Linked DNA regions of Homo sapiens. The protein of the gene in region 3 purifies or fractionates together with the protein of the main gene of each other region. This does not show direct contact. Each region holds a gene or a part of one and is shown on either strand. Other genes may lie near its edges.

Region 1 (4,397 bases), on a different chromosome or scaffold from region 3:
CTTATGGGGGGAGGGTTAGGGAACGGGGCAGGTGGGTATTCTTGTCCTAAGATGAGAGACCGTTGTGGCCTCTTCCTATACCATAGTTTGTATGGAATCCTTGGCTGGGCATTTTTTAAATAATTTGCAATAAAAACATATAAACATTAAAAGAAAACAGTTTGCCCAAACATTGTTTATATCCAAGGGGGATTTGTTTATAGAAATTTATCTCCCATACTGTGGCTTTTAAGAGTCCCTGCATTTGGGAAAGTTGTTGGAAAGTGGGCTTCTTAGTTTCTGTATTGAGATCTGGCTTGGATTTGGAGCTGAGGGAAATGGAGAGGGGTTAGGAGGAGGCTCAGCCCCCTCCGCCTGCACCCTTCTTGGCCTGGGCGGTGGTCCCAGCTACCTTTTGTCAACTCACCTCTGTCAGAAGTTCCAAGATATGTCCTTTCCTCTTCGTGAACACATCCACCAGGGTCTGGATAAAGCATGAGCCTTTCTGATCATGTCGGTAGGCGATGTATCCTGGGAATTCCAGAGAGGTGGGTTCGGGGGAGCTTCAGAGGGTAGGTAGAGGGGATCCTGGAAGGGCGTGGGTCCTGGAGGAGAGGTTCAGGAGTTGGGAGTGGCAGGAGAGGGGGAAGAGCAGAGGGATCCCTGGGCCAGCTGGGAGCTCATACCCTCTACCGTGGAATAAACGTGCAAGGCATCTGTGTATGTTGGGATGGTTTGTGGGCTGTCTTTGATGACCATCACAATCTCATCTCCACCTACTGTTTCACCGGGGTCCCTTTGTTCTGAAACAACAAGAAGAGGAGGAGGCAAAGTCAGAGAGAAAGGTAAGGAAAGGGGCTGGGCAGGGTGGCTCACACCTGTATTCCCAGTGTTTTGGGGGGCTGAAGCAGGAGGATCACTTGAACCTGGGAGCTTGAGGCTGCAGTGAGCCATGATTGCACCACTACACTCTAGCCTGGGAGACAGAGCGAGATGTCGCCTCTTAAAAAGAAAGGTAAGGGCTGGGCACGGTGGCTCACACCTGTAATCCCAGCACTTTGGGAGGCTGAGGAAGGCAGATCACCTGAGGTCAGGAGTTTGAGACCAGCCTGACCAACATGGTCAAATCCCATCTCTACTAAAAATACAAAAATTAGCCAGGCATGGTGGCTTGCACCTGTAATCCCAGCTACTTGGGAGGCTGAGGCAGAAGAATTGCTTGAACCTGGGAGGTGGGGGTTGCAGTGAGCCAAGATTGTGCCATCGCACTCCAGCCTGGGTGACAGAGCAAGACTCCGTCTAAAAAAAAAAAAAAAAAAAGGATGCTTTTGTGGTATGCCATGTGCAGTGGGGCTTTTTAATTTAATTTAACTTTTTAGAGACAGGGGCTTGCTTTGTTGCCCAGGCTGGAGTGCAATGGTGTAATCATAGCTCACTGCAGCCTCTTAACTCCTGGGCTCAAGTGATCCTCCTACTTCAGCCTCCTGAGTAGCTAGGACCACAGGCCCATGCCACCATGCCCTTGGCTAATCTTTAATATTTTTCATAGAGCTGGGTTCTTGTTACATTGCTCGACGCTAGTCTTGAACTCCTGGCCTCAAAAAATCTTCCCGCCTGGGCCTCCCAAAGTACTGGAATTACAGGCATGAGCCATGGTGCCTGGCTTCAGCTGGGGCTTTGGATCTGGGACTGGCTTGGATAAAAACACAGACTTGGTTGGGCATGGTGGGAGGCTGAGGCAGGAGGATTGCTTGAGCTCAGGAGTTTGAGACCAGCCTGGGCAACATAATCAGACCCTGTCTACAAAAATTAGCCTGACATAGTGGCGGGAGCCTGTAGTCTCAGCTACTCAGGAGGCTGAGGCAGGAGGACGGCTGGAGCCTGGGAGATGGAGATTGCAGTGAGTTGAGATTCCGCCACTGCATTCCAGCCTGGGTGCTGTCTCAAAAAACAAAACAGAAACAACAAACCACAGACTCTGTGCTCTTGGATCTGTCCCCACCTCCTCGACAGGCCTGTATGATGTACACCTTGGGCTTAGCTCGCAGGGCCTGGCAGTTCTTGTTGTTCAGGGCCTCGAAGAGATTCTCCAGCTTGACCATCTCCCCATCTTCTCCCTTGAGGAAGCCTTCCCTCCCGTGAGCCATGAGTACCACGAAGGCACAACTGACGGGATCTTCCCGGGAATCGATGGCCTGCTGGAATTTTTCCAGCTCTTCCTGGAATTGCTGGAGTGAGAGGAAGAACCAGACTCAGCTGGGTCCCCATAGCCTACACTTCCAACCTAGTACCTTTCCCCCAAACAGGCCTGGAGTAGGCACCCCAATACCTCGGCAGTGGGGTCTCTTTTCATGGTGCTTTCGAATCTCAGCTGCCGAAACATGTGTTCCAGAGCATCCAGGTCTTCTTCGGAACCTTCCCGGGCTTTGGTGACACACAGTATTAGGGCCAGGCGGGCACCTGACATATCATATTTCTCCTGGGGCCAAGAGAAGACAGAAATCAGCATGGAGAGGTTCAAGGAGAAGCAGATGTAGTCAAAAGAGGCATGCAGGCTGGGTGTGGTGGCTCATGCCTGTGATCCCAGCACTTTGGGAGGCCGAGGTGGGAGGATTGCTTGAGCCCAAGAGTTCGAGACCAGCCTGGGCAACATAGTGAGACTCTGTCTCTACAAAAAATGAAAAATATAGCTGGGTGTGCTGCTGTGCATCTGTGGTCCCAGCTACTTTGGAGGCTGAAGTGGGAGGATAGCTTGAGCCTGGGAAGTTGAGGCTGCAGTGAACTATGATCTTGTCACTGCACTCCAGCCTGGGCAATAAGTGAGACCCTGTCTCAAAAATGAACAAACAAAACAAGAGAGGCTTGGGCTTAGGGTTGCCAGGTATAATAGAAGATGCTCAGGTACACTTAAATTTCAAATAAAAACCAAATACCTTTTTAGTATAAGTATATCCCAAATATTGCATGGGATATACTTATACTACATAATTATTTGTTGTTGATGTGAAATTCAAATTGAATTGGGTGTCCTTTATTTTTAGTTCCCAAATACAGCAACCCAACCTGGGGTCCAGCTCTTTTCTAGCTTGGTATGAACTTGGGGGAAGTCACTGCTCCCATCTGAGCCTCAGTTTCCAAATATAGACAATGAGTGTGTGTGTGATTTTGAAGATCCCTTCCAGTTGTCGTATTTTGTGGATTTGCAGGTCTCCTCATCCTCCCCAAGAGTGTTCTGAGCATTCCTCTATTACCTCCTCACTTGCAGAGGTCTCAGAGTTTCTGAAGCTAATACTGAGATCCCGTCTGAGGAAGAAGAATATTGGGGGTCAACAGTTCTTTCCAGAACAGAAGCAGCGTACTGAGCACCCCAGTGGTAAGAACTTCATCTTTTAAAAAATCAACATGAAATTGTTTATTGCAGGACTTCTCAGAACCTTTAATGTGTTGAGAAGAACTTGATCTTTGGAGACAGAGGTAGCTGTGTTTGACTGCCCCCACCACCCAACCCAACTTCGGTTCCATCTCTGAGTCTTTTTTTGCTGTTTGATTGACTACAAAGTACCTCCTAGCTCTGAGTTCAGATCATGATTTTTTCAGTCCCTCCACTCTTTCCAAAACATTAAAATCCTCACCTTCCTTCTCCCCAGATGATCACCCTCCCCTCAACCTGCACCCAGCCTACCTCTTCCAAAGACCGCGGATTGCTCATTTCTCCTTTGGTTGTGAGTCCCGGCTCTCAGCACCCTTGTCTGATCCTTGGAGTCAAGAGAAGATAGGTTAAAGTTCTCTAAAGGGAGGCCGAGGGGCTCAGGGGACAAACTGGCTTATGTATCTGGATTTTTGAGACCAAATAGCACTCAAGTGGTGGGGATTTGGTCTGTGGACAGATCTGGGCAATAGATGATAATCCATGAAGTAGTAATATATCACCCCTAGAATGACAATTTCACGATGTCTTCCATTTCTGGATGTCTTCTTCAGAACTGCTGAGCCTACCCCACAATGTCCCCCACTCCGCCCCCAAAAACTTCCTGTGTCTCCCGTGGGTCATTCACCAGCTTCTGGTGGACTGAACTTCCCCTGAAAGCCCTGGAATGAGGAGCAGGGCAAGTGACCCATGTGTTTGCCTCTTCTACCTAGGAGATGACGGGCTGGGGAAGCCATCTCAAAGAGATGCCTTGGAGGAGTGTTTAAAAGGAGAATGTCATCGAAGTGGGGAATGCAACTTTGATATTATCTCACTGGGTCTCCAATACGAAGGGGTCAATCCACCTCCCTTGCTCTTCCTTGAGTCTGAATGTCTGTCCACATTCTCCATTCTCATCTCTGAGTCCTGTTCTCTTCTCTGGCTGCACAGACAGACTTTTGTCATACTCTTGGCATTTCCCCATCTCTTTGCCTTTTCCTACACTTTCTCC
Region 2 (4,740 bases), on a different chromosome or scaffold from region 3:
GGTTCAAGCAATTCTCCTGCCTCACCCTCCCCAGTAGCTGGGATTACAGGTGTACACCACCACGCTTTGCTAATTTTTTTTTTTTTTTGAGACAGAGTTTCGCTCTTGTTGCCCAGGCTGGAGTGCAATGGCCATCTCAGCTCACTGCAACCTCCACCTCCAGGGTTCAAGTGATTCTTCTGCCTCAGCCACCCGAGTAGCTGGGATTACAGGCATGTGCCACCACGCCTGGCTAATTTTTTGTATTTTTAGTAGAAACGGGGTTTTACCATGTTAGCCAGGCTGGCCTTGAACTCCTAACCTCAGGTGATCCGCCCGCCTCAGCCTCCCAAAGTGTTGGGATTACAGGCATAAGCCACCACACCTGACCTAATTTTTGTATTTTTAGTAGAGACAGGGTTTCGCCATGTTGGTCAGGCTGATCTCAAAACTCCTGATCTCAAGTGATCCTCCTGCCTTGGCCTCCCAAAGTTCTGGGATTGCAGGCGTGAGCAATGAGCCCGGCTAATTATTGTGTTTTTAGTAGACATGGGGTTTTTGCCATGTTGACCAGGCTGGTCTTGAACTCCCGACCTCAGGTGATCCACCTGCCTCAGCCTCCCAAAGTGCTGTGATTACAGGCATGAGCCACTGCACCCAGCCAAGGCCCATTTTGGAGAAGAGGGGAGTGGGGCTCTGGGATGTAGAGCATCTCACCCACATCTGCCTGATGGGGAACACACGTTAGGTTCGAGGTCCCTGGCTCTGTCCCTTGAAGCCTGACAGTCTCACCGCAGGCCCTGCCCATCCGAGTCCCACTGTAGCTGGGCTGCCAGTGTTCCGTTCTCACTGTCCAGTTTGGCTTGTTCCCTGAATGTCGCATGCTCCACTACACCGTGGAACCGCACCCTGCACGACGCCTGTCGCCTGGGGCTCTTCACTTTTTTTCTCTCCTCCTTTCTCTCAAACACCTCCTCTCTCTCTCCCTTCCAGCATACCTTTATTATTTATTTATTTTATCTTAATTAATTTATTTATTTTATCTATCTATTTATTTATTTATTTTGAGACAGTGTTTCACTCTTGTTGCCCAGGCTGGAGTGCAATGGCACGATCTCGGCTCACTGCAACCTCTGCCTCCCGGGTTCAAGCGAGTCTCCTGCCTCAGCCTCGCAGAGTAGCTGGGATTACAGGCATGTGCCACCACGACCAGCTACTCTTCTATTTTTAGTAGGACGGGGTTTCTCCATGTTGGTCAGGCTGGTCTGGAACTCCCCACCTCAGGTGATCCGCCTGTCTCGGCCTCCCAAAATGCTGGGATTACAGGCATGAGCCACCACACCGGGCCCGAATTTATTTTTTTGAGACAAGATCTTGCTCTGTCTCCCAGGCTGGAGTGCAGTGGTGCGATCTCAGCCCCACAGCAACCTCCGTCTCCTGGGTTCAAACAATCCTCCTGCCTCAGCCTCCCGAGTAGCTGGGATTACGGGCGCCCACCACCACACCTGGCTAATTTTTATTTTTTTTATTTTTGAGACGGAGTTTTGCTCTTGTTGCCCAGGCTGGAGTGCAATGGCAGGATCTTAGCTCACTGCAGCCTCTGCCTCCCGGGTTCAAATGATAGGCCCACCTCGGCCTCCCAAAGTGCTGGGATTACAGATGTGAGCCACCACGGCTGTCCTAATTTCTGTATATTTACTAGAGATGGGGTTTCACCATGTTGGCCAGGCTGGTCTCGAACTCCTGACCTCAAGGGATCCACACGTCTCGGCTTCCCAAAGTGCTGGGATTATAGGCATGAGCCACCACGCCCAGCCTCATTGACAGTTTTTGAAATTGACTATATGTGGAAATGATATTTCAGATAGATTAGATATGTGATTAAAATTAATTTCACTTGTTTCTTTTGTTTTTTTAAAAAGGTGGCTACGAGAAAATGTTTTCCTATGGGCTCACGGTATATATCTATGGAGGGTGGCCAGGGTCATGGAAACCATAAGGGTGACAAGTCCCCCCGAGAAGAAATGGCCACTGAGGGGCAGCCTCTGACTGCAGTTCCAAGCCCCTGTTGGATTCCTTTCTCTGGCATGAGGGTTATGAGTGGGGCCTCAGTTTTCCCATCTGTAAAATGGGCATTGTAACACTGGGACCACACAGGGCTGTTGTGAAGACTCAGTGAGCTCATCCCCACACAGCCTTCAGCACAGGGCCTGGCTCAGGGCAGATGCTCAGGAAGCTCATCATTATTATCATTCCTCACCCATCCCCTCCCTTGCTAGCATTCGAGTTTCTGGCTCAGCAGCGGTCTCAGAACTGGGGAAGGAGGAAAGAGAGAAACAGCACAAATGCTGAGTCAGCTGCGAGCCCAGGTCAGGCCCTTCCCCGGTCATTGCCCGTTTCACAGACGCTCAACCCTGAGGGCAGTCCTTTCTACCAGGAGGGTCCCAGCTCCTGAGCCATAGGGGCGGCATTCGAACCCAGGACTGCCTTCCTGTGGGCATTCTTCTTTTCTTTTTAATTTTTTTTTTTTTTTTTTAAAGAGAGATGAGGGTTTGCTATGTTGCCCAGGCTGGTCTTGAACTCCTGGCCTCAAGCAATCCTCCTGCCTTGCCCTCCCAAAGTGTTGGGATTACAGGCGTGAGCTGTGGCACCTGGCCCCTGCAGGCTTTCTTGCCTGCGGTGTCACGGTCCCCACTTTCCCAGATCCTTGGGGCTCTGGTCCCCACGTAAGTAACTGGCCACACCTCTCTTAGGGCCTCCACTCCAGGCCTCCGGGCAAGGCGAGGGTCTCCCTTCTCAGCCTGGCATTTATTCCATGTCATGGGTGACCCACTGGGTCCCACAGTTCCTCCTCCAGACCCTCTGGGTGGCAAACTGGGCTGCTTAGTTCTTTCCAAATGGGTCCTGAACTCAGCTGGCCAGCATGGCGAAACCCTGTCTTTATCAAAAATACAAAAATTAGCTAGGCATGGTGGCACATGCCTGTAATCCCAGCTACTTGGGAAGCTGAGGCAGGAGAATCGCTTGAACCCAGGAGGCGGAGGTTGCAGTGAGCTAAAATCACGCCACTGCTCTCCAGCCTGGGCGACAGAGCAAGACTCTGTCTCCAAAACAAAACAAAACAAAACAAAACAAAACAAAACAAAAAACAAAACCAAATGGGTCCTGAACTCTGAACATCACCACTTCCAACCTTTCCTCTGCCAGTCCGTACACAGGCCCACCAGGCACAACTGCCTCCCCCCACCCCAAAGAGCGAGTGGAAAGGAAAACGCATCCTGTCCCTCACTCTTCAAGGCTGAGTCCCTCGTCAGGGGCTGGGTGGAGAAGGAGGGAACCGTGAGCATCTTTTTCCACTTCTCCCCAAGTCCCCGCATCCGCTAGTGCTGGCCCCGAAGCCCCTCTCCCTAGTCTGCCTGCCCAAATCTCACCCAGCGGGGAGGCAATGCCTTATTATTTCTTAATTGTTTGAAACCCCTTGATCAGCCCGTCTCAGAAAAAGCAGCTTCAGGCCAGTCGCGGTGGCTCACACCTGTAATCCCAGCACTTTGGGAGGACGAGGCGGGTGGATCATCCGAGGTCAGGAGTTTGAGACAAGCCTGACCTATATGGTGAAACCCTGTCTCAACTAAAAATACAAAAATTTAGCCAGGCGTGGTGGCGCACGCCTGTAGTCCCAGCTACTCAGGAGGCTGAGGCAGGAGAATCGCTTGAACCCCGGAGGCGGCTGTTGCAGTCAGCCGAGATGGTGCCACTGCACTCCAGCCTGGGCAACCAGAGTGAAACTCTGTCTCAAAAAAAAAAAAAAAAAAAAAAGAAAAGAAAAGAAAAAAGAAAAAGCAGCCTCATGACTGGCAGGGCTTTGGCCATAAAATCATTCATGTGGCTCAGCCCTCCCTAAGGAAGGTGGGGCCGGGGTTGTAAAACCAGAGCTGGCCCCTCCTCGCCCTCCCCGTCAATAAGAGGCAGAGATCAGAAGGTGCCGGCGCCAGGGACTCCCGAGATCAGAGCGCGGGGAGGAGCGGCCACCGCAGCTCTCCTTGGCTGCCCGAGGCGCCCCAGGTCCAAAGGCCGGCGTGGCTTCTCTGGCCTTGACACTCTCCGTAGCCCAGCACGCAGGGAATGCAAGGAAACGCCTGGAACCGCAGAGCGCCTGCTAACGCCTCCTGTCTGGGCTGAGTCTCCCTCCCGGATCTCGCTCCTTCCGGGTCTTGCTCATCCCCAAGTTCCCCATCCAGGGCGTGATACAGTCAGGCTTCCCTGGTTCAAATCCTGGCTACGCCCTGCTTGGCAGCTGTGTGACCCTGGGCAAGTCACTCAACCTCTCTGGGCCTCACCTCTTACAGGGGATGATAGTAGTTAAAATGGGTTAATCTCCGACGGCTGTAAGGATTAGATGAGGTAATACAGACAGCACTCAACAGGTTGAGAACAACTGCAAGGATGTTACAGGGATTATAACATCCTGGGCTTGTCAGCCTACTGGGTCAGCAGCCCATCCTGCCTACCGCCTGTGCCAAATGTTTTCCTCTTACGATTTTATTTTTTTTAATTTTTTTAATTTTAATTATTTTTTGAGACAGAGTTTCACTCTTGTTGCCCAGGCTGGAGTGTAATGACACGATCTCGACTCACCGCAACCTCCGCCTCCTGGGTTCAAGCGATTCTCCTGCCTCAACCTCCCGAGTAGCTGGGATTACAGGCATGCACCACCATGCCCGGCTGACTTTTTTCTATTTTTAGTAGAGACGGGGTTTCTCC
Region 3 (5,216 bases):
CTCCAATTTCAGAATAATTGTTATCTCTTGGGAAGTGAAGAAACAGGACTAGGGACTGCAATTAGGGCATCAGTAGTCTAACACTTTGTTTTTGTTTTGTTTTGTTTTGTTTTTTTGACATGGAGTCTTACTCTGTTGCCAGGCTGGAGTGCAGTGGCCCGATCTCCGCTCACTGCAACTTCCGCCTCCCGGGTTCAAGCGATTCTCCTGCCTTGGCCTCCCGAGTAGCTGGGACTACAGATGCGTGCCACCACACCCAGCTAATTTTCTTGTATTTTCAGTAGAGATGGGGTTTCACCATTTTGGCCAGGATAGTCTTGATCTCCTGACCTCATGACCCACCCACCTTGGCCTCCCAAAGTGCTGGGATTACAGGCGTGAGCCACTATGACCGGCCTAACACTTTTTTTCTTAAATGAAATGTGACAAATGTTAACATTTGTAAATCAGAGTGATGGGTTTGTGGATGTTTATTATATCATTTTCTGTACTTTTCTTTGTGTTTGAAAATGTCAATTAAATGCTTTTTCACTTGTGTTAGAGCAAATGTTTTGTATTTTTTTTTTTTAACTTGTGTTGGAGAGATCAGCCAGTTAGCCATGGAATTAAGTAAAATTTAAAGTAACATGATTTAGAGTCAAAATAAGTCATATTTACAGTGTGATGTTATTTATATAAAGTTTAAAAAACATGCAAAATCATACATTATTTAGGGATACATACATAGAAAATAAAAATATAAAAATGAGTGTGAAAAATGCCAGATCCAATAGAGTGGCTTGCTAGGAAGGGAGGGAGGGGTATGCCAGGGTGTTTTGTTTTGTTTGGTTTTGTTTTGTTTTTGACACGGGGTTTCACTCTTGTTGCCCTGGCTGGAGTGCAATGGCACGATCTCGGCTCACCGCAACCTCTGCCTCCCAGACTCAAGCAATTCTTGTGCCTCAGCGTCCTGAGTAGCTGGGATTACAGATGTGTGCCACCAAGCCCAGCTAATTTTTATTTTTAGTAGAGATGGGGTTTTGCTGTGTTGGCCAGGCCAGTCTCGAACTGCTGGACTCAAGTGATCTGCCTGCCTCGGCCTCTCAAAGTGCAGGGATTACAGTGCCCAGCCCTGATTGTGTCTTATATTATGATCTAAATCTAGTTTATTTTTAAAAAGTAATATAAGCCCTAATTTATGTATGTTAGGGAACTAGAGAAGACATGAGTTAGTAGATGCTGGGGGTAGGGGTATGGAAAGTTTCATGAGGGGTGTAGAATTTGAAGAGAATGTTGCAGGATGGATACAATTTTGAAAAGGGATGTAGAAAATAGAAAAGCATTCCAAGTAGGGAAAAGAGCCTTATTTAATAATGGGTTTAATAAGTTTGGAAGGTGGAGTGGAGATCAGTCTTTCTTAGAGCTGAGTTTGGGTTTGGAAGGAGTAGGTATGGTACAGACAGTGAAAGGTGAATTATAAATGTCAGGAAATTGAGCACCTTAATCATTGGGCTCTTCTGGTCTATCTCCATTTAGTCTCTGTGATCATCTCGGTTTCTCTTTTCTAAATTCTTGCCTGTCTTTTTTAAGCTGCAATAAGCTGATTTATTATACAAAGTGTTCCAGTTTTAGATACATCATGGTTCAGTTCAAGAATATGTTAACAAATTCAATTTGGGCCCTGATACCTTTGCTGATGAAGTCCATCATTTATCTTAGCCTTCCTGGCTATGCCAGCACCTTGGGCTGACAGCTTTAAAAAATAGTCTACTGTGATTTTAAGATTCCTTTCCTAGATGGTAATTGATGGCCTCTGGCCCTTCAGCCTGCACAAATTAGGTTTGCTTTTCTTCTGCATGGGTTACTGGCAGATGGTAATACTTCTTTAAGGTAATACTCTCTTATTTTTCTACCCAGTCACCTTACCTAACCGGCCTGTTGAGATCTTCCTGCAGTTTATCCTCTGATTTTATATTTTATTGTGAGGAGGGCTTGTGGGCTTGAAGAATTCAGGTGTACTCTTAGATTATTTGCAGCTGCTAATGTGCATATCAGTAGCCCTTTGGGTTTTTTTTTTTTTCCCGTGGTCAGTGGGGGTGTCTAACACCCCCTTCCTCTCTCAGCAGAACTTTCCCTTTACTCTTTGATTCCTCTTTTTTTCTCTCTGCCTAGGAAACCCTTTAAACACATCAATTAGTATTGTTTTCAAAGTTTGTATTTCTGTAGTAATATATGTAATAGTTTGCTTACACATTACTTATTAATCTTCCAGAGAGGTTTAGGGAGTAAAGATTCTTATAGCTAAAGAAGTAGGGACTGTATTCATAAATTAAAGATTATATGTAAGATTTCCTCTGAAATCTTAATAGGAATCAATGTGAAAGTGATTGATTTGGCTATATTTTTATTTAAGAGCATCCTTTAGGATCACCTCTGTTATGTGAAACAAGTATTTGGTAAGCTTGTTTCAATTTCTAAATGTTGAGTATGGATTAAATTATAAAAATGGGAGGGAGGAAGAAAATCAACATTTCTTGGGCACTGAGTGTTTGCTGGGTAGTGTTCTAACATTTGCAAATCTACGTCACTTCCTGCTTAACATTAAATTAGCATTACCACCCACCAGGAATTGTGCTAAAGGGCTTTCAACATATCGTCCCACTTAAACCTTCTAACCTTCTCAAGATCGCTTATTTCTTATAAAGGTGATACTTGTACATGATACTAAATCAGAAAGGGTTTGCAGTGAAAACTAAGTCTCTTTGGTGTCCCATCATCTTCCAGTCATCTGGTTCCTATTCCAAACTGCTGCTACCAGTGTCTTTTGTATTCTTTCAGATACTCTGATATTCTTTCAGATACATAGACCTAATCATACATAAAATGCATGTATCTATTTTAAAGATTTTTATAAAAATGGTGTCATACATGTAGTTCTGCATCTTTTTTCAATTAATGTCTGAGTTTATTTCATGTCAGTGAATATAGAACTGCCTCATTCTTTTTTTTTTTTTGAGACGGAGTCTTGCTCTGTCCCCCAAGCTGGAGTGCAGTGGTACAATCTCGGCCCACTGCAACCTCCGCCTCCCCAGCTCAAGCCATTCTCCCGCCTCAGCCTCCTGAGTAGTTGGGATTACAGGTGCCTGCCACCATGCCCGGCTAATTTTTGTATTTTTTAGTAGAGATGGGGTTTCACCATGTTGGCCAGGCTGGTCTTGAACTCCTGAGCTTAGGTGATCTGCCTGCTTTGGCCTCCCCAAGTGCTGGGATTACAGGCGTGAGCCACCGCACCTGGCCAGAACTGCCTCATTCTTTTTAAAAGATATACTGTAATTTATTTAACTACTTTCCTGTTGGTAATTATCCTTTCTATTTTAATAGGTAAGTTAGCTCCTTTATATTTATTGGAATAACTGATATATTTAGTTATTTAGTTTAAGTTCAATTTTTAATATTTTCTTCGTCTTTTTTTTTTTTTTTTTTTTTTTTGAGATAAGGACTTACTCTGTTGCCCAGGCTATAGTGCAGTGACACGATGATAGGTCACTGTAGTCTCAAACTCCTGGGTTCAAGTAATCCTCTCACCTCAGCCTCCCAAGTAGCTAGAAGTACAAGCATGCACCACCACAGTTGGCTAATTTTTAAATTTTTTGTAGGTACAAGGTCTTGCTACGTTGCTCAGGCTGGTCAAACTTCTAGCCTCAAGCAGTTCTCACACCTCAGCATCCCAAAGTCCTGGGATTACAGATGTGAGCTACCATGCTTGCCCTTTTAAAAATATTTTCTTCTTAAAAAAGTCTTTCACTATGTGGACTGTGCTTGCTTTTGAGGGGAGGACATACATATATATATATATATACACACACACATATATAATATATATATACACACATATATAATATATATACACACATATATAATATATATATACACACATATATAATATATATATACACATATAATATATATACACACATATATAATATATATATACACATATATATAATATATATACACTATATATAATATATATACACTATATATATAATATATATATACACTATATATATAATATATATATACACATATATATATACACACACACATATATATATTCTGATAATTTGGAAGATTTATCTTTTTATTTTAGTGATTGTGTTTATAAGTGTAACTTTATACCATATTTCTTCAGACAGTACCTGTTGGCTCCCTACCATGAGTAATGATGAAATTAGTAAGTATATTTCCTCACCCCTCTCTTCCCACCTGCTTCTAGTTGATTATATTATTTTTCTTGGTTTTATTTTCTGTCGTAAAACATCCATATTCGTCTATTAACATTTGCAAATCTACATTAGGATTTAATGTTAAACAGGTAGTGACATAGATTTGCAAATTGAGCTATCTGCTTTAAATATCTTCTGAGCCCTGTCAGTAAAAGATGAAGAAGTCAATGCACTTCATTTGTCCATTTTTTCCTCCTTTTAACATTTGCCAATTATATTACTTTGATGTTCTCTTTGCCTCAAATGTAAGACCTAGTCATAAGGTTGGATCTGTTCAGGGCTCTCCACCAATCCTTTTGCCATGGTTTCTCCATCTCATGATTAGTTGAAGTTTGTTCTCTCACAGCTTCTTCAGACAGGTGTTAAGGAACACATTTTCCCTGAGTTCTTACATGTTGAAAAGTAGTTTTTTTTCACTTTTATACTTAAACAATAGTTTGGCTTGATATATACTTATTCTTGAATCATTTATTCTCATTTTCTTTCTTCTCTCCCTTCTCTTTCCCTTTTCTTTCCAACAGGGTCCAGGCTGGAGTGCAGTGGTGTGCTCACTGCAGCCTGGACCCTCCTGGGGTCAAGCGATCCCCCCGTCTCAGCCTCCCAAGTAGCTGAGGCTACAGACGTGCAGCACCATGCCCAACTAATTTTTTATTTTCTTGTAGAAACAGAGTCTCACTTTGTTGCCCAGGCTGGTTTCGAACTCCTAGGCTCAAGCAGTCATTTTGCCGTGGCCTCCCAAAGTGCTAGGATTACAGTTGTGAGCCATCCCATCAGCTCATTTTCTTTTAATTGTGATACATGACCGAAAAGCACATGAAGCACAAATGTGTGGTATGATGGCTTAATGAATAATCACAAAGTGAACACCCCAGAAACTTCTGTGTCTATTTGCTGTTTTCTCCTTTCTTTCCTCCAGAGAGAACTATATCCTTTTATGTCATTTACTCCTTT
Region 4 (4,740 bases), on a different chromosome or scaffold from region 3:
CTCTGCTCTCCCCTGGCCTTTCCAGGGTGCCTGCGGCAGTTGCTGGACTTTCTCCACCACTGGGGCCCTGGAGTCTGCGATCGCCATCGCAACCGGAAAGATGCTGTCCTTGGTAAGAAATCAGCCACAGGCGACCCCCTGCGGAGGACACCCCATCCTGATGTGGGCCAGGCCTGGGCCTTTGGTTTCCCTGGAGCATTGGCTAAGGGTGCTGTTTCAGGTGGACCCAGATGCCCCAGCCTTGTGGACATCTGGCATGAGAATCTCAATTGATGCTTTTCCCGGGAAGGATCTGAGTTTATTAAGGAACCGGCCCAAGGGCTCATTCCTAGATGGATCTGGGTGGTCCTTAGCTTGACAGCCTGGAGCCTTCCCGGCGGAGGGGTTCAGAAAGGCGGAGCCTGCCTGGTGGGTAGCCAACTAGGAGCTACACCCTTCCCAGCAGCCTCAGTTGTCTTCATGAGGGAAGAGCCGGGACCTATGCATCCATCCCCTCGCCCACAAGAGACGGATGATGCCCCTGAAGGAACTATCCTAGCCCCTGCCTCTGTGGAGAAAGGAGGGACAGTGCACAGCCGGCCTGGTGATGCCATGAGGACCCTGGGTTGTGGACAGGTGGGGGTAGGGTCTCTGGCTGGGCCTGTTTCCCCCATCCTATACACCGCTGTGGGACCCCACACTCTGCATCGTATGGGCACACCTACGGGGCAGGGGTTTGGACCCAACAGCCCTTGCCCCCTCTCACCTTCCCTGGCTGCCCCTGCTTACTGAGCCCCTCCCGACATGTGCCAGCTGCTGGGCTGGCACTGCAGGACATACAGCAACTGTCCCTGCCCTTGGGGAGTTTATAATTTGGTCACCTTGACACAGCACTGACGGGGCCTCAGATGTGGCTCAGCCAGGGAGGCTTAGCGCCTCACGCCAAAGCCTTGACGGCTTCTCAGCTGGCAGGTCACTGGGTTGTGTCCTTCTTCCAGGCGGAACAGCAGCTGGTGGACTGCGCCCAGGACTTCAATAATCACGGCTGCCAAGGGTACGTCTCTGACCAGAAGGGGCCCAAAACTTCCTCATTTCCCACTGACCGCTTCGACAGGATCCAGTGTGTGCTGGGTCTGCCACAGATATAACCCACCACTGCCCTGGGCGATGGCAAAATGGTCTCTGTTGTACAGGGGTGGTCACCTCACATGGCCAGGTCTCATAGCCAGGACAGGGCAGAGCTGGAATCTGAGTCCAGGCCTCTGTCCTCTCTCCACTGTATCACCTGGCTCTCCACAGTGCGGTTGGCCTCACCCGCCACCAAGGCCTCTGGGAGTGTGGCCAAAAGAATTTAATAGAGTGAGCAACACACCATTACACATCATCCTCCAAACCCGAGATCCACACACAGATACAGGGTTGGCCTTTAGATGAACTCACTAAAGTCCCAGCCTCCCAAGCTCATTGCGCCCTGTGAGGGTGAGGTGGCTGTGTGTAAGGGCTGTACCTTGCCTGGACCTGCTTTCCTGGCCCACTGTAAAGCAGGTTGCCAGGAATTTGCTGACATTTCTACAGTGACTCTAGCCCTCCCTTCATGCAGTGCTCTGAGACATTTCTGTGGTCTTTGCTCACCTGGCACATGGTGTGCATAAAGCCAGGCTCTTGGGGTGCCGTGCCTCGACTCCCCTCCACCTCCCTGGGGCACATCCCTCTCCCAGACCCCAGCCCCTCTGAGCTGGCTCTTCCTCCTGCAGGGAGCCGTGCTGCAGCCAAGTCCTGGGGACCCAGGGGTGACGTCGTAGCCTGCTCTCAGATCCACCATCATGCTCAGTGTCCCCTTACTTTTGGTCTGTTTCCACTCCACAGCTTAGAAACCCAACCCATAACAAGAGTCTGACATTTGGGCACTCTGGGGTCCCACCGTTTTTATTTTTTATTTATTTATTTATTTATTTATTTATTTATTTTTTCTTTTTTTGAGATGGAGTCTCGCTCTGTTGCCCAGGCTGGAGTGCAGTGGCGCGATCTCAGCTCACTGCAAGCTCCGCCTCCCGGGTTCACCCCATTCTCCTGCCTCAGCCTCCCAGGGAGCTGGGATTACAGGCGTGCGCCACCACACCTGGCTAATTTTTGTATTTTTAGTAGAGATGGGGGTTTCACCATGTTGGCCAGGCTAGTCTCGAACCCCTGACCTCAGGTGATCCACCCACCTTGGCCTCCCAAAGTGCTGGGATTACAGGTGTGAGCCACCACATCCAGCCTGTTTTTCAAAGGAGTCTATTTGCTTTGGTTCAGGACAGTACTTCCTTTTCTCATTCATACAACAAATATCACAGAGCACCCGCTGTGTGTAGGCCCTGGGGATACAGCGCTCAGCAGAACTGGAAGAGCGGGCATTCTGGCAGGCTCAGAGAGACCACAGTCAAGGCTAGACTAGGTCAGGCGGTGCGGAATGCTATGGAGAGAAACAGAGAAGGGACGGGGATTGCTGGGCAGCTGCTGAGTTTTTGTTTATTCTGGGAGGCCACATGATGTAGAAAAGACCCACTTTTGGAACCACTTCCCAGCTTTAGCTGTGTGGCCCTGGCCAGGTTATTCAGCCTCTTTGCCTCAGCCAGTGACAGCATCCACCACACAGGGTCGACACGAGGGGTCAGGGAGTCATGCCTGGGAAGCACCTGCCCAGGGGCTCGGCTGTGGCGATGACAGTGCTCTGGGCTGATGCTGTTGACCATGGTGTGGGGCTGTGCACTCCTGACAGAGCGGCTGGCCTTAAGGGGTCTCTATCCCACTGAGGCATGTTTGGGCTGGTCCTTGGACTCCGGTGGCCTCATCTGAGTTTGCTGAGTCTTATCCCAAGGCTGGGCCTCTCAGAGACCCCCTCTGCCACTGGGACATGCCCAACCAAGTCCCCAGCCTGCCAGGCCAGATATCTCGCCACGCCAGTCCCCGAGGGCCCCGCCTCTATCAGGACAGCCCCAGGTGGGCTCACCTGTGTGTACTTCTTGCAGGGGTCTCCCCAGCCAGGCTTTCGAGTATATCCTGTACAACAAGGGGATCATGGGTGAAGACACCTACCCCTACCAGGGCAAGGTAACTCCAACAGCCTCCACTCTGTCTTCTTGGCGTACAGCATGCCTAGCTTCACTCCCTCCCCAGCCTTGGAAGACATCCCTTCTCCCCCCACCTCCCTCCCGCCGGAATTCTCACAATTGTCTGTTCTCTCCAAATTCTTCCTTCCCCTCCTCCACCCACCTGAGCCCACTGCTCTCACCAGTCCAGGGGCCTCTTTATCATTCTCACCCCATACCCGCTCTGCGGCACCATCTCTTTCCTTCCCGAGCCAGACTTCTCAGGACCCCTCCTTCCCCCCACCTGCCCCATCTTCCTGGCTCCTCTCCCTCCTGCCACGAGCGCCATCCTCTCGCCTCTGTCCATGCAGTTGGCCTCTTGTGCCAAGGACCCTTTGGGGGCCCACCCCCACCCCTACCCTATCAAGGCTGCTGGGCCTCCCACCATCACCTCCGCCCAGCCTGGCCACAGCCAAGTGCCTTGTCTTTCCCCAAGACCTGTTGCTCCTCCTTTATTTCCCCTCGTGGTGATGAGCAGCACTGGCCTCCCTCAGAATTTCCCAGGTGTCCACAGTCCTGTTGGGCCGGTCCCCCTCTCCACCCCACCCTGCCGCCAGCCTGCTGACCACCACAGACCTCACATGACTCCCTTGGCCCATCTGTGTCGCTGACCACTCAGACCGGGGCCTCCATCCAGACCCCTGAGGGTGGCCTCCCCCAGGCCTCTCAAACCCAGCTCAGACCCCACGCCTGCCTCGATCAGAATGCCGCCGAGGCTCCATGCGGCCTTCGGGAGAAAGCCCAGACTCCAACTCAGTCTCCCTGTCTCTTTTACTCTCCCTTCTTTTTTTTTTTTTTTTTTTTTTTTTGAGACGGAGTCTTGCTCTGTTGCCCAGGCTGGAGTGCAATGGCGCAATCTCGGCTCACTGCAACCTCCGCCTCCCGAGTTCAAGCAGTTATCTGCCTCAGCCTCCTGAGTAGCTGGGAGTACAGGCACCCGCCACCACGCCCAGCTAACTTTTTATATTTTTAGTAGAGACAGGGTTTCACCATCTTGGCCAGACTGGTATTGAACTCCTGGCCTCGTGATCTACCGCCTCGGCCTCCCAAAGTGCTGTGATTACAGGCGTGAGCCACCGTGCCCGGCCAACTCTCCCTTCTTAACCTCACGCCCAGGCCCAGCCACATGCTGGTTCCTAAATGCCAGGTCCTACCCTCCCTCTAGTTCTGTCCCTTGTCCTGCTGCCTTCTCTCCTGCCTTGAAAGGGCTGCGCTTCCCTCCTTGTGACCTTACCCCTGCACCTGCCTCTTGCCAGCATTGTTTTTTGGGCTGAGACTGTCCCCACTCCCCTGCCTCACAGGCTCTGACTCGGCCTCCACTTCTCAGTGAGTTTCCTCAGGCCGGGTGAGGCCCCTCCTCAGGCTCCCACCACACACCATGTGTGCCCACCTCTGCCAAAGCCAGCACAGGACCATCTGCTACCAGACCCTAAGCTCCTTGAGGACAAGGATGCTTTAATTCTCTCTGAAATTATCCCATCCCCCAGGCCCTGGCACATCTTGTTTTGTTTAGTAAATGTTATTGAACTGCGTGGGGAGGCTGAGACTTCGGGTCCATAACCTGTATTTCATGCCCTTTGCATCCTCAACAGGATGGTTATTGCAAGTTCCAACCTGGAAAGGCCATCGG

Evidence for each region. The genes of interacting proteins can lie anywhere in the genome.
Region 1: the proteins of TBC1D22B (region 3) and CASP14 purify together in Homo sapiens (affinity purification with mass spectrometry; 2 studies listed by BioGRID and IntAct, with this or other methods). This does not show direct contact.
Region 2: the proteins of TBC1D22B (region 3) and SULT2B1 purify together in Homo sapiens (affinity purification with mass spectrometry; 2 studies listed by BioGRID and IntAct, with this or other methods). This does not show direct contact.
Region 4: the proteins of TBC1D22B (region 3) and CTSH purify together in Homo sapiens (affinity purification with mass spectrometry; 2 studies listed by BioGRID and IntAct, with this or other methods). This does not show direct contact.

The regions. Positions count from the first base shown.
Region 1 is NC_000019.10:15,051,543-15,055,939, reverse strand, and holds part of CASP14 (caspase-14 precursor), read right to left. Parts: intron 3,735-4,397; 5' UTR 3,689-3,734; coding exon 3,662-3,688; intron 2,459-3,661; coding exon 2,309-2,458; intron 2,208-2,308; coding exon 1,982-2,207; intron 783-1,981; coding exon 666-782; intron 585-665; coding exon of another isoform or gene 511-584; coding exon 407-510; intron 1-406. UniProt on the Homo sapiens protein: Non-apoptotic caspase involved in epidermal differentiation. Is the predominant caspase in epidermal stratum corneum. Seems to play a role in keratinocyte differentiation and is required for cornification.
Region 2 is NC_000019.10:48,557,735-48,562,474, reverse strand, and holds part of SULT2B1 (sulfotransferase 2B1), read right to left. Parts: intron 1-4,740. UniProt on the Homo sapiens protein: Sulfotransferase that utilizes 3'-phospho-5'-adenylyl sulfate (PAPS) as sulfonate donor to catalyze the sulfate conjugation. Responsible for the sulfation of cholesterol.
Region 3 is NC_000006.12:37,263,487-37,268,702, forward strand, and holds part of TBC1D22B (TBC1 domain family member 22B), read left to right. Parts: intron 1-5,216. UniProt on the Homo sapiens protein: May act as a GTPase-activating protein for Rab family protein(s).
Region 4 is NC_000015.10:78,927,744-78,932,483, reverse strand, and holds part of CTSH (pro-cathepsin H isoform a preproprotein), read left to right. Parts: intron 1-25; coding exon 26-112; intron 113-442; exon of another isoform or gene 443-887; coding exon of another isoform or gene 888-977; coding exon 978-1,033; intron 1,034-2,990; coding exon 2,991-3,072; intron 3,073-4,702; coding exon 4,703-4,740. UniProt on the Homo sapiens protein: Important for the overall degradation of proteins in lysosomes.